Homo sapiens: one gene and its partner. The protein of the gene in region 1 purifies or fractionates together with the protein of each later gene. This does not show direct contact. Each region holds a gene or a part of one and is shown in the gene's direction. Other genes may lie near its edges.

Region 1 (7,033 bases):
TTGGAGCCCTGGGATGGCCCTCCCAGCATTCGTTGGGCTTCCCCGTCTCTGATATTTGTCAGGCCCCTCACCCCGTGTCTGGCCTTCCGCCAGCTGTGGGGGCAGGATCAGGCATGTACTCCTTGGTGGCCCCAGCGCTGGCTCTGCACCCGATGCATAGTAGGTGCCTAGCAAGTGCATCTGGAGGCTCGTTCGATGGCCCTGCAGGGCTCTCTGGGTCTGGCGGGAGACATTGGGAGTCAAGGTCAGTGCCTCACACCATCTCCTCGGCAGCATGTGTCTTTCTACCGTTTGCCGTGGCCCTTCCCATGGCCAGTGACTAACAGCTTTCACGCACACTCTGGGGTGGGCTGAAAGGCCCCGGAAGCAGCCCTCTTTCCCTGGAAGATGGGAGATGAATGACAGCACCCTAGCTTCCTGCCTTCTCTGGGGACGCCCTGAGCACGGTCCGTTCTGTCTCCCAGGTGGCCCCAGCAGGACTGAGAGCAGCAGCAGTCCACAGCCATGACAACTCAACCACCTGCCCTGTGTCAGCTGCTGTCCCCTCCTTTATTCCTCCCCACTCCCCTTCTGCAGCATCCTGGAGTCACTTCCCGAATAAACCCCTCACATCACCTCCTTGTCTCAGGGTTTGCTTCTGGGGGGACCCAGCCTGAGACGGGATGAACATTCATTCGACAAAATATTGCGGCTGGGCGCAGTGGCTCACGCCTGTAATCCTAGCACTTTGAGAGGCCGAGGCGGGCGGATCACTTAAGTTCAGGGGTTCGAGACCAGCCTGGTCAACATGGTGAAACCCTGTTTCTACTAAAAATACAAAAATTAGCTGGGCGTGGTGGTGCATGCCTGTAATCCCAGCTACTTGGGAGGCCGAGGCAGGAGAATCACTTGAACCCAGGGGGCAGAGTTTGCAGTGGGCCGAGATGGTGCCACTGCACTCCAGCCTGGGCGACAGAGCGTGATTCCATTTCAAAAAACAAACAAACAAACAAAAAACAACAAAAAGCAAACATTGAGTGGCAGCATAGGGAGAGAGGTAAGTTTATTCTCATCAAGACTGGGAGGAAAAGTTACACAGCCTCAATTACCTTTCCAAAGGACAGGTACGGGTAGGAAAAGGATTAAGAGACAATCTTTTTTTCTTCTTGTTAACTTGTATTACATTTTTAAAAAATATAATGAATCAGTAATGAAACAAATAAAGAAACCCAATTGCAAATGCTGTGTGACTTTGGGCCAGTCGCAGACTGTCTCTAGGTCTCAGCCTCCGAGGAATGACATGGAGCTGGACCACAATTCCCAGGTTCTGGGGTTTGAGATTGACCTTACCTCCGCCTTGCCTGCTCCCCACAGGTTTGACAACTATTCAGCCAATGTGATGGTGGACAGCAAGCCAGTGAACCTGGGGCTGTGGGACACTGCTGGGCAGGAGGACTACGACCGTCTCCGGCCGCTCTCCTATCCACAGACGGTGTGCTGCTCCCACCTGCCTTGCAGTCCTGACCTTTGCTGTCTCTGTTCCCTCTGCTTGGGATGCCCTTCCAGCCAGCTCAGCCTGGGAAACCCTACCTCTCCCCTTAAGGCCCAGCTCAGGGAGTCTGCCTGCCTTGCATGTCCCAGGCAGAGAAGGGCTTCCTCTTGCACTCCCTCAGCCCTGCATTGGTTCCCGGTCCTCAATGTGCCCATCTTCCCACCCCATTGCCTCCTGGGCTCTGGCACCCCCTGTTTCCAGTGGTGGGGCAGGTGGATTCTGCACAGGGCCCCAGGAGGCAGCCCAGCATGGTGAGCCCTGGGAGTGCTGGGGGAGGGGAGAGGTGGAGGATGCCTGCAGGTGGCTGCTGGGTCCTCGCCCTTCCTCCAGGGTATGCAGGGAGGCGGCTAAGGCCGGTAATCAGATGGTGGATAGTATATGGATTGGAGTATGGACTCTAGAATCCCAGATCCTCCCCTCACCAGAGTGCACGTTGGCAAACTCTTTAACCTCTGGAAGCCTCACTTTCCCTGTCTGAGGAATGGGGCTACCAGCAGTGCTTGCTGCAGAGTGACATGTGAGGATAACCACTTCGCAGAGGCCCTGGCCTTTAGTGAGCGTCCTAACAAACAGCAGCCTCGTGGTAGAGGCGAGAAGGGTATCTCTGCTCTGCCCAGATCCTAAGTCCCCAGCATTCCCTGGGGTGTTCCACCCTCAGGGAGCCCCAAGCTCCACCTCTCGGTGGCTGCCATGGTGGGACACCTCTGGGCCCTCCTCACTAGCAACCTCGCTTGCTCTGTCCCCAGGACGTCTTCCTCATCTGCTTCTCCCTCGTCAGCCCAGCCTCTTATGAGAACGTCCGCGCCAAGGTGAGCTGGACAGGGTGGGCCTTGGGGGCTCTGGGGCAGGTAACCCTGAGGGACAGAGGGAGGAACTGGTGACTCTAGGCTGGTCCCTGGGGCAGCAGAGGTCGCATACAGAGAGGGTCCCCAGTGCCAACCAGGGCTGGCAGAGGGACTTGAGGGGGTAAGATTCAGAGGACCTGGGGTGGGGGGTGCTGCGATAGTTAGCTATACCCCCACTTTCCATGGCTGCATTCTCCTCCTCCCCACACAACCTCATGTCCGCCTCCGATTGTCACATAACCTCATGTTTGCTTCTTATGTCTGCACAAAACCTCGCCTCCTCCTTTCCTACAATCATGCGCCCCCTCCTTCCTGCACAACGTCGTGGCCTCCCCTCCCTGTGCCACCTCACGTCTCTCTCTCCTCACCGTCGTGCCCACCTCTGATCTTCTGGCAACTTGCTGCCTCTCCTCTCCCTACACCCTCACACTCCCTCTGATCCCCGCACAGCCTCGCGCCCCCTCTTGACCCATACAACCTTGTGTCCCCCCACCCACCTGCCCAGTGGTTCCCAGAAGTGCGGCACCACTGCCCCAGCACACCCATCATCCTGGTGGGCACCAAGCTGGACCTGCGGGACGACAAGGACACCATCGAGAAACTGAAGGAGAAGAAGCTGGCTCCCATCACCTACCCGCAGGGCCTGGCACTGGCCAAGGAGATTGGTATGGGCCTCGGGCTCAGAGGGGCGATCTGGCTGCAGGGGAGGCCCTGACTTGGCCTCGTGGTGTGATTGTAAACACGGGCTGCAGGGCCAGGCTGTGCAGTTTGAACTCAGCTGTGCTGTGCACTTGCTGTGTGACCTTGGGCGAGTCACGTAGCCTCTCTCTGCCTGTGTTTCCTTATCAGAAAAGCATGGGATAGTGATAGCTCCTGCCTCCTGGGGTGGTTGGGGGAATTCAGTAACTTATTCCAGGTGGAGCTGCCAGGGCAGCACCTGTGTGTGAGAAGCACTCTGTGTTAGTAGTAGTCGTCCTAGTAGTATGAGTAGTATCTATTAATAGATACTGAAAATAAGGAGGTGTGCTTTGAGCAGACAGAAGCAGAGATTGAGTGGGGGTGCTGTGGTTGCTTGGAGGACAAGTGGCAAGTCAAACTTGGGTGTTCTGGGAAGGCTTCCTGGAGGAGGTGGCGCTGCATTAGATCTAAAGGGTGACACATTTCCTTCCACCACCTTCTCTCCTCCCTTTCCCCACTCCCTTTGGTTTCTCAGCTCGACCCCTCTTTGCCTCCAAATCACTGGGCTGGAGAAATATAGTAACTTCTCAAGGTCACCCAGCTAGTAGGTGGCCCAGCCAGATTTGAAGGAAGGACAGCAAATTATTGGCTCACTGCTGGGGGGTGCTTCTTTGTAGTGGCTCAGGGCTGCCTGCATCAGGGAGGCGATGACCATGGGTCTGGCTTCATGCATGGTACCCAGGCCTGCTGGCTGTTCCTGTCCCTGTCCCTGGTAGGTCCCAATGTGTCTGTAGCTCAGGGATCCTTGCCCAAAAGCCCAAAACCACCAGCTGGGTTTGGTCATATGAGCTGTGCCCTCTGCCTCACCACAGGACTCTGCAGGCCCAGGGTTTGGCCCCCAAATTGAATCCACTAGACCTCCTCCCGCCCCACCGCCCCAGCCCCGCCCCACCTCCCCCTGCCGGAACTGGGAGGGCCCTGGGGACTCACATCTCTTCACAGGAAGAGAAACCGCAGCCACCACCTCCCTCCTTCTGTGACTAGCGTGGTGACACAGCCATCTTCCCCGGGGGCCTCAGACTATGGCTCACACCCTGGCTCCCTTCCCCTGTCCTAGGGCCACAGCTCCCCAGCCTGCAAGTCTTTCCTTTTAAATATCAAGGATTCATCCCTGCCTTCTCTTTCTGACCAACCAGCACCCCTCCAACCCCTGCCCCTGGACTCCTTCTATTCAGGGTGCAGCTCTCCAGCCTGTGGCCTGGCTGTCACTGACCTCTCCCTTGTAAAGCACATGCTTTGGGATCATGTGGAGGGTGCTGGAGGCCTGGATTCTGGTCCTGGCTCTGATACTGATTGGCTGTGTGACCTTGGGTTAGTGGCTGCCCCTCTCTGGGCCTCAGTCTCCCTCTCCACATAAGCTGACCTGGACAATCCCCAAAGGCCCTCTCTCCTCCATAAGGTGGTGACTCAGAGTTCTTGCCTTGGCCTCTAGCCAGTCTTTCCTGGCTGACCCTGCATGGAGCTGGGGCAGGGGCAGTGATTTTAACTGTGCCTCAGACCAGCTTAGGCCTAGGGGGAGTCCTGGGGGGACTGGCAGGGATAGTGAGGGAAGCAGCAACTGCCTCTGCCCACCTGGACTCCCCAGCCCTGGGATGACAAGTTTTGGGGGCAGCCCTGAGCCCAGCTGATAATCACAGCTGATGTGGACTGAGCACTTCCTGGGAGCCACTTCATTCTCACAGCAGCTATGACGAAGAGCTCTTGTCACCTTCACTTTACAGAGAGGAAACAGGCTCGGGGGGACATGTTGCTGGCTTAAGGCCACCCAGCCAGGATTCTGACAGGGGTGGACTGGCTCCCTAAGCCACAAAGCTGAGGGCCATCTGTCCTCCCTGCACCTCCACTGCCCCCACCGCCCCCTCACCCTCCTTGCCCTCTCTGTAGCTCCCCTGCCCCCTGCCTCAGCTTGATGAGCCATCGCATGGCAATGAGTCCTAGACAGATGGGAGACTGAGGCCCGGAGAGGGGGAACTGACTAAAGTCCTAGAGCAGTGAGAGGCCGAGCCAAAGTGAGCCCTGGCCCCCCAGCTCAGGACCCTTGTCCTGGGTGAGTGGGTGGCTGGGTGCCAGGGAAAAGGCAGTTGGTGGATGTGGGGGAAGTGGACGCAGATGTGGTCCCTTATAAGGAGACAGTGGCCAAGTGCCCAGTGACACCTCCTCAACACAGGGGGCTGTGGTGACCAGACTCCGGGCTGAGCTCAGGGCACCCTGCTCTTGCCAGCCAAGCCCCATGACAACCACTGCCCATGATCCCTGGTGGGCGTATATGCCTCCAGGTAGAGGGGAGACGCCCAGCATGTGACTCAGAGCGAGTGACATCCTCTCTGAGCCTCAGGCTCCTCGTCCCTGCCCCACCCTTCCTTTCTCCCCAGCACCTGGCCTCAGTGGGCTCCCCTGTTCCAGGGGCTGCCCCTCCTGCCATCCCGACTTCTCCCCCCAGCTCTGTGCCTTCGGGCCTTGGCTTCCCCACTCTGGGCCTGTTTCCTGGTCTGTGAAATGGGAACTCACCCCGGTGTTGTTGGAAGCACCCAGCTCAGTGCCTGGCACAGGGTAGGTGGTGACCAGCGTCCATCCCCTTCCATCCTGCCACAGAGAAGCAAGCGGGCTTTGGCGGAGGGCCCAGAGTTCCCCTCCCCTCCCTTCTCCTTCCTCTTGGTTCTGACATCGGCCCCCAGGCCTGCATAGCATCTCGGCAGAAGGGGTTTTGTGGTTTTTCACTTCAGGGAAACTGTGCAGCTTGAAATGGACATGGGAAGTCACACGGACTCTTTGCAGAATGTCATGGAACGCCGTCCCTGGGGGTGGGAACTAGGCCTGCCTTTCTCCTCATCTGTGCCCCGGGCTCTAGCCCTGAGGGGTCTTCATGTGGGAGAAGGCTGGGCCTCCCATGGCAGGACAGAGGAGCTCTCCAATGCCACTCCTCCCAGAAGGCCCCCAGCTGGGCCCAGGTTGAGGGAATACATCCAGCGTGTGAGTTTGGATGAGTCGCATACTCTCCAGGAGCCTCAGTTTCCTTGTCTGTAAGACAGGGACGGTGCTAAGGAAGGGGCTGATGATGTTGGGAAGTTCCTGGGGAGGGGGCCCTGAGGGCTTCAGGCCTCCTGGGGATTATTTGCAACCCTGGGAGAATCCTGGAGGGATGGGCAAGACAATTTTCTAGAAGGTGAGGCTCCCAGAGATTTGGTCACTGATGCTTGAGCCCTTTCCTTCACAGAAAAGCATCAAAATTCCCGCCCTCCTTCCACGGACTAAGGGCTATGTGTCCAAGAAAGACACAGACCTGCCCTGGAGGCCTTAGTCTCTCACTGAGTTCACGCTCGCTATTACAGACATGAGGAAACTGAGGCACGGTGACGTTAAACTCCTTGCTCCTGGTGACACAGCCTCCAGGTGACCCCACTGGGACTGGATGGCGGCCCCCAGAGCCTGGTGTTCAGTTGTATGGCTTGGGAGGGGGTGTACGGCATGGAGGGGTGTATGGCGTGGGAGGGGGTGTATGGGGTGGGAGGGGTTGTATGGCATAGGAGGGGTGTATGGCGTGGGAGGGGTGTATGGTGTGGGAGGCGTGGGAGGGGTATATGGCGTGGGAGGCATGGGAAGGGGTGTATGGCGTGGGAGGGGGTGTATGGCGTGGGAGGGGTGTATGGCATGGGAGGCGTGGGAGGGATGTATGGCGTGGGAGGGGGTGTATGGCGTGGGAGGGCTTGTATGGCATGGGAGGCATGGGAGGAGTGTATGGTGTGGGAGGGGTGTATGGCGTGGGAGGGGTGTATGGCGTGGGAGGGTGTATGGCGTGGGAGGGGTATATGGCGTGGGAGGGGTGTATGGCGTGGGAGGGGTGTATGGCGTGGGAGGCGTGGGAGGGGTGTATGGCATGGGAGGGTGTATGGCGTGGGAGGGGTGTATGGCGTGGGAGGAG
Region 2 (7,033 bases), on another chromosome or scaffold:
AGGCTCTTCCATAATTTCTCCAAAGCCCAGCGCTCTGCATATATCTTCCTAGTTCTTCCTTCAGAAAACCTAAATGATGCAAAATGATACCACAGTGTTGAATGTTTGATTTTAAGGTGGGTGGATTTAATAAGGAAAAGATGTTTTGCGTCTTTTTCATTGATCGCTTAGGCATTCTTGCTTTTTTGATTGATTTTTAACCTGGGTGGAGGGGTTTGAGGAGCTGTTTGAGAATGTGATGAAGGTCTTGGACCATATCTCTAGAAAAATGTACATACACAATACACAAACACAGGCACACAGACCCCCCCAACACAGACACACACACACACACACACACACACAGACAGACACAGACACACACACACAGACACACACACACACACAGTTCTACACATGATTTCAGGTGGGGAGGTCTCCCACCCTGTCCTCATAGATGCATTGGGCTTCCATGGACTTCATCTCTCCATTGCCTTGCTGTGATAAGTTGCACCTTCATAATGGAAACTCACTCTGATTCAGAACCAGCTGAACACTGGTTGCTGAGAACAATGCGTAGAAGGGTTGACTGCACAGGCCACTTCGTTTGATGGTTTGCATGTGGCATTCTGGAAGGAGCATGGCTCTGCCATTGGAGAGTTCTGATACAGAACCCAGGATCTGGTTTTGGAATAAATAACTTCTCCAAGCTTAGGTTTCCTCCTTTGTGCAATGGGTCTGACGGTCTGCCCTGGCAGGTGTGAGGTGATGATGTGGCAGGACGTGCACAGCAGGCTGGCACAGGGCCGTCCTCTCGTGTGTTCCCTGAGGGAACCCAATTCTGCGTGGCCTGTAGGACCTACTGGCTGGGCCTCCTAAGCTGGTTCTTTGTAGCTGCCCTGGCACCAGCACTGACGTGCCCATACCAGAACTGATCATGCCTACACTAGAAGTGACCATGCCCTACCCACAGTAGTACTGACTCTATCCACGCATTACTGACCCCTGCCCATACCAGTATTGACCCCACCCACACCAGCACAAACCATGCCCACACCGTCACTGACCCTGCCTGTACCAGCACGTTCCTAGGGGCCGGTTCAGGGATAGGATAAGGAGTAGTATTTGGGAGGGAGGAGCTTGCTTTGTTAGTGAGACATATTACAAAAATAACTAATGAGACCTTAAAATGCTTTTTACATTTTCTCCAGATGTCTTTCTGTTGGTCTTGAGGCACCCTGCTTACATTGCAGCCACTGCGGCTGTTTTCATGCAGTGCAAAAAGCCTCTATTTGTTTAAAGTCTGTTTACCCTGATGCTGTTGACAGGCCCAGTTGGTCCTCCTGCTTCACTGTCAGTGGAATTTGCTCAATAGATATTAAAAGGAAAAAATCAGTTTTCTGTATTTGTCTTCCCAGTGGTACAGTGCTTGAGCAAAACTCCAAAGACTAAATATGTTTGAGATGCTGGCAGACTCGTATCTGGCTTTAAGGTGTGTGACCTCAAGACTCGAAGTCTCAGGGTAGTTTTTTAGATGGAACATTTATTGGCAATTCAACTTTCCTCTTTAATTTGTAACTATAAAGATGTTCTCTAATTGAAATTTATCATTCTTTCAAATGACTCTGTTTCCTTTTTCATATTGTTAAAAAAGCCTGTTTCCATCGGCTTGTTAATTACAGGAATATAATCCTAACGGGTAAGAGGCACCTATGGTTAATTTTCTGCCCTTAGACCTGCGTGTTTTGTTAACAAGAAAGCCAGAACCTACTGCCAGATCACAACTCTTGATCTCTTTTGTTACACAGTTGTCTGTGTTCTTTAAATAAAAACTGTGGTAAAAATCATCTTACAATTTTGTTGGATTTGAGGAATCAGAGAGAATATTCCCCAAAATATGTACTGTTTATTTATTTATTTATTTATTTATTTTTAGTATTTATTGATCATTCTTGGGTGTTTCTCCGAGAGGGGGATTTGGCAGGGTCATAGGACAATAGTGGAGGGAAGGTCAGCAGATAAACATGTGAACAAAGGTCTCTGGTTTTCCTAGGCAGAGGACCCTGCGGCCTTCCGCAGTGTTTGTGTCCCTGGGTACTTGAGATTAGGGAGTGGTGGTGACTCTTAAGGAGCATGCTGCCTTCAAGCATCTGTTTAACAAAGCACATCTTGCACCGCCCTTAATCCGTTTAACCCTGAGTGGACACAGCACATGTTTCAGAGAGCACGGGGTTGGGGGTAACGTCATAGATTAACAGCATCCCAAGGCAGAAGAATTTTTCTTAATACAGAACAAAATGGAGTCTCCCATGTCTACTTCTTTCTACACAGACACAGTAACAATCTGATCTCTCTTTCTTTTCCCCACATTTCCCCCTTTTCTATTCGACAAAACCGCCATCGTCATCATGGCCCGTTCTCAATGAGCTGTTGCGTACACCTCCCAGACGGGGTGGCCACCAGGCAGAGGGGCTCCTCACTTCCCAGACGGGGCGGCCGGGCAGAGGCGCCCCCCACCTCCCGAACGGGGTGGCTGCCGGGTGGAGGGGCTCCTCACTTCTCAGATGGGGCGGCCCGTCAGAGACGCTCCTCACCTCCCAGACGGGGTGGCGGCGGGGCAGAGACACTCCTCAGTTCCCAGACGGGGTCGTGGCTGGGCAGAGGCGCTCTTCACATCTCAGACGGGGCGGCAGGGCAGAGGCGCTCCCCAGATCCCAGACGATGGGCGGCCGGGCAGAGACGCTCCTCACTTCTAGACGGGATGACGGCCGGGAAGAGGCGCTCCTCACTTCCCAGACTGGGTGGCCGGGCAGACACGCTCCTCACTTCCCAGACGGGGTGGCGGCCGGGCAGAGGCTGCAATCTCGGCACTTTGGGAGGCCAAGGCAGGTGGCTGGGAGGTGGAGGTTGTAGCGAGCCGAGATCATGCCACTGCACTCCAGCCTGGGCAACACTGAGCACTGGGTGAGCAAGACTCTGTCTGCAATCCCAGCACCTCGGGAGGCTGAGGCTGGCAGATCACTCACGGTCAGGAGCTGGAGACCAGCCGGGCCAACCCGGTGAAACCCCGTCTCCATCAAAAAATACGAAAACCAGTCAGGTGTGGCGGCGCGCGCCTGCAATCCCAGGCACTCCGCAGGCTGAGGCAGGAGAATCAGGCAGGGAGGCTGCAGTGAGCCGAGATGGCGGCAGTACAGTCCAGCCTTGGCTCGGCATCAGAGGCAGACCGTGGAGAGAGAGGGAGAGGGAGACCGTGGAGAGGGAGAGGGAGACCGTGGAGAGGGAGAGGGAGAGGGAGAATGTACTGTTATAGACTGGACAGATTTATTAGCCAGATGTTGCTTGTGTTTTTAGTTGGTGACTACATTTAGCCATCTGGCCAGGAAGTTGCTTAACCTTATTGTAGATAACGTCCATATGTTTGGTGTTCACATACAATAGAACATCTGTATTGAAAATCTTCCTGTGGCCTCATGTAAGGACTCGAAGTAGAAGGGGAGACATGCAGGGATCCCTATTGGGGTCAGTGGGGAGTAAAAAGGTGGTGGATAGATCTCTCCTCCAAGTTTTCTTCCCTCTCTCCTTCCTCAACTCTCTGATGATGTCACAACTGCCAGCTATGTGTTTGGGTTGATGGATGTATATGTGATTGCATATATATGTGAATGTGTGTGTGTGTGTACATATGTAGTATGCCTTAGGTGGGGTGCAGTGGCTCACGCCTGTAATCCCAGCACTTTGGGAGGCTGAGGTGGGCAGATCACCTGAGGTCAGGAGTTGAGACCAGCCTGGCTAACATGGCAAAACCTCATCTCTACTAAAAATACAAAAATTAGCCGGGTGTGGTGGCACACACCTGTAACCCCAGCTACTCGGGAGGCTGAGGCAGGAGAATTGCTTGAACCCGGGAGATGGAGGTTGCAGTGAGCCGAGATCGCACCACTGCACTCCAGTATGGGCAACAAGAACGAGACTGTCTCAAAAAAAAAAAAAAAAAAAAAAAAAGTATGCCTTAAAACTTTTCATATTTTACATAATAATTAGTAATACATACTTCACTTGGGCCTTGTAGATCTGTAAAACTTCTCCTTGCAAGACAAAGCCACTGTTGATTGCAATGGAAATAAAAATTGAGGATTTTTTTTTTTTTTTTTTTTTTTACTTCTCCCAAGATGACACATTTTAAGCTAAAGAAAGCAGCCTCCAAGAATTTTATATTCCTAATATTTTGGGCAAGCCCGAGTTTCTAGGTTGTTTTTACCTGCCCAGTTGCTGTGGTGGAAGTTGTGCTAGAAAATTCAGCCTCCTTGGTCTATGTCTGTGAACTTACTAAATTCTTGTTGTTCTAGAATTCTAGATTTGGACCTGGTGGTTAGAGATGAAGATGGGAATATTTTGGATCCAGAATTAACTAGCACGATTAGTCTCTTCAGAGCTCATGAAATAGCTTCTAAACAAGTGGAGGAAAGGTTACAAGAGGAAAAAGTAAGTTTGACTCTGTCATATGCCATTCACGTTTTCTCAGTAATAAGTTTTCAACATTAGTAAAGTATCAGTCAAGCCCAAAATTGTCACTAAGAAAGAACCTGAAAAGGAGTAGCTGCAGAGTTTGTGTCCTACAGTCATGAGTGGAATGGAGCCTGGTGGCACAGGATGTCACCCATGACATGAAAGGGGGTCGGACAGCATTGTGTTTCATCGTAGGAGACAGGATCCTAATGATGTTGATTTTGTGTTCTCATCTGTCAAATGAGACACAAGACTTGATTCTGCATTTCCTCTCGGATAATGGTAGGCAGGTCATGTATTCCAAGCTCATTGAGGGCAGAGAGTACATGTCTTATTGTCTTTTCGTCTTCTATGATCTTTAATGGTATCATGTATGCATTAGCCTGTTCTCGCCTTACTATAAAGAAGTGCCTGAGACTGGGTAATTTATAAAGAAAAGAGGTTTAATTGGTTCATGGTTCTGCAGACTGTATAGGAAGGATAGTGGCTTCTGCTTCTGGGGAGGCCTCAGGAATCTTATAATTATGGTGGAAGGCGAAGTGGGAGCCAACACTTCACATGGCTAGAGCAGGAGGAAGAGAGAGGGTGTGCGGGGGGGTGCTACACGCTACACTTTTAAACGACGAGATCTTGTGAGAGCTCACCATCATGAGGACAGCACTGAGAGGATGGTGCTAAACCATTCATGAAAAATCCACCCCATGATCCAGTCACCTCCCACCAGTATATATATATACACACACACACAGTAGATACTCAGAAATTGACTAATTGAATCATCTGTTAATTCAACAAGTACTTACTGAGCATCTACTGTGTACCAAATGTTGAAGACATAATGATACATGAGACAGATGTCCTTGGAGGGTTTAGTCTAATGAGGGAACAAAAAATTAAATAACTACACATATATAATCATTATTTTGATTTATTGGATGGACACCTGAAAGTTTTGTATCTCTGAAAATACTCAGCACAGCAGTTGCACAGGATACAATTTTTTGTCTGTTGTGTGAATGCATGATTTAAGAATGTGCAGGGGAGATAAGAAAGTGACTGCACCAAGGCCTTTGCTGGGTTATGCCAATGAGTTATTACAATTTTCTATTCTGTAGGGAATAAAGAAAGCAAGTGTCAGTGATGAGTGTTGCTGGGGTTGACTTTCTGTTTCCTTCCATACACAGTCTCAAAAGCAGAACATAGATATTAACAGACAAGCCAAGTTTGCTGCAACCCCTTCTCTGGCCTTGTTTGTGAACCTCAAAAATGTGGTTTGTAAAATAGGAGAAGATGCTGAAGTCCTCATGTCTCTATATGACCCTGTGGAGTCCAAATTCATCAGGTGGGTGACATTTCTTGGCTGCCGTCTTTCCTCTTTGGTTAGTGTTAGGAACTTGGGATCAGAACCACTGAAGCGTCCCATTCATGCTGAGAGGCCTTGGATGAATGGCTGCTGGACACGAGCAAGCAGCCGAGTCAAGAGCTGTCTTAGACAGTGTGATGGCAGCCAGGTTGGGCTCTGGGTCAGGGTGAACCTTCTTGCGTGTAGATTGCTATTTGCTCGTAGAGTTATAGCAGTTGCAGGTACACTCTGGCCGTATCTTAAGAGTGTAGCTGAAGATTGAAGTAATACTTTGTTTCCTAAGTTGTCTTCGTAAGATTTTATATATCCTGGTCCCTCAAATATCACTATTTCCATTTTTCAAAATTTGGTTTCTATGAATGCCATTTCTGTGAGTTTTGTCTTGTTTTTTCTGCAAGATGATTGGCTGGAATACATCATTTAGAATGGTGCCTGCCACATACAGACTGTCAGTTAATATTTGTTAAATGAAAACACTGTAAGTCTATTTTTTCCTGCTTAGCCTTCAGTATAACTTTCTCTTTGCCCAGATGGAAACAATGTGGTTCAACTATGTATGAATTATGTGTGTGTCTGTGTATATGTTAAAACTCTAGTATCTTCACTTGTATTATTCAAAATTTGAAAACTTAGTGTATGAATGATACAGAAAAATACGAGTGGATTTTATTCTCACTTCTGATAAAGACTTTGTTTCCTCTTGACATAGGATGCAGTTTTTATTTTACAATGTATTTGGTTTGTCATAGGTTTTGAAATAAACATGCATTGTGCTGAATTTTATAGTATTGTCATTCTAAATGAACAAATAGGCTCTTAAAAAAAAAACCAACTTAGAAATACCATTTGCAAGTAGTTCTATTACAGTGACAACCCAAGACATTGCACATTAAAACTTGGCAAGGTTTTTGTGCTGTGGATGTTAATTGATGAGTAGCTGTATGTGATACTTTTGATATTTATAAACTCAATAGTTGTCTGTATAGTGCACGTACATGGTATTAATTATGAAGCAATGTGGATGTACATTTGGTACCCTGTTATTTGGAAAATTAACTTGCTTTTATTTCTCCATTTTTCAAGTGAGAACTACCTGGTTCGCTGGTCCAGTTCAGGATTACCTAAAGACATAGACAGATTACATAATTTGCGAGCCGTGTTTACTGTAAGTGCACCCAAAGA

Evidence for each region. The genes of interacting proteins can lie anywhere in the genome.
Region 2: the proteins of RAC2 (region 1) and DOCK1 purify together in Homo sapiens (affinity purification with mass spectrometry; 2 studies listed by BioGRID and IntAct, with this or other methods). This does not show direct contact.

Annotation. Positions count from the first base shown.
Region 1 is NC_000022.11:37,227,239-37,234,271, reverse strand, and holds part of RAC2 (ras-related C3 botulinum toxin substrate 2), read left to right. Parts: intron 1-1,353; coding exon 1,354-1,471; intron 1,472-2,277; coding exon 2,278-2,340; intron 2,341-2,881; coding exon 2,882-3,041; intron 3,042-6,328; coding exon of another isoform or gene 6,329-6,366; exon of another isoform or gene 6,367-6,533; intron 6,534-7,033. UniProt on the Homo sapiens protein: Plasma membrane-associated small GTPase which cycles between an active GTP-bound and inactive GDP-bound state.
Region 2 is NC_000010.11:126,992,420-126,999,452, forward strand, and holds part of DOCK1 (dedicator of cytokinesis protein 1), read left to right. Parts: intron 1-4,328; coding exon 4,329-4,464; intron 4,465-5,672; coding exon 5,673-5,830; intron 5,831-6,934; coding exon 6,935-7,016; intron 7,017-7,033. UniProt on the Homo sapiens protein: Involved in cytoskeletal rearrangements required for phagocytosis of apoptotic cells and cell motility. Along with DOCK1, mediates CRK/CRKL regulation of epithelial and endothelial cell spreading and migration on type IV collagen.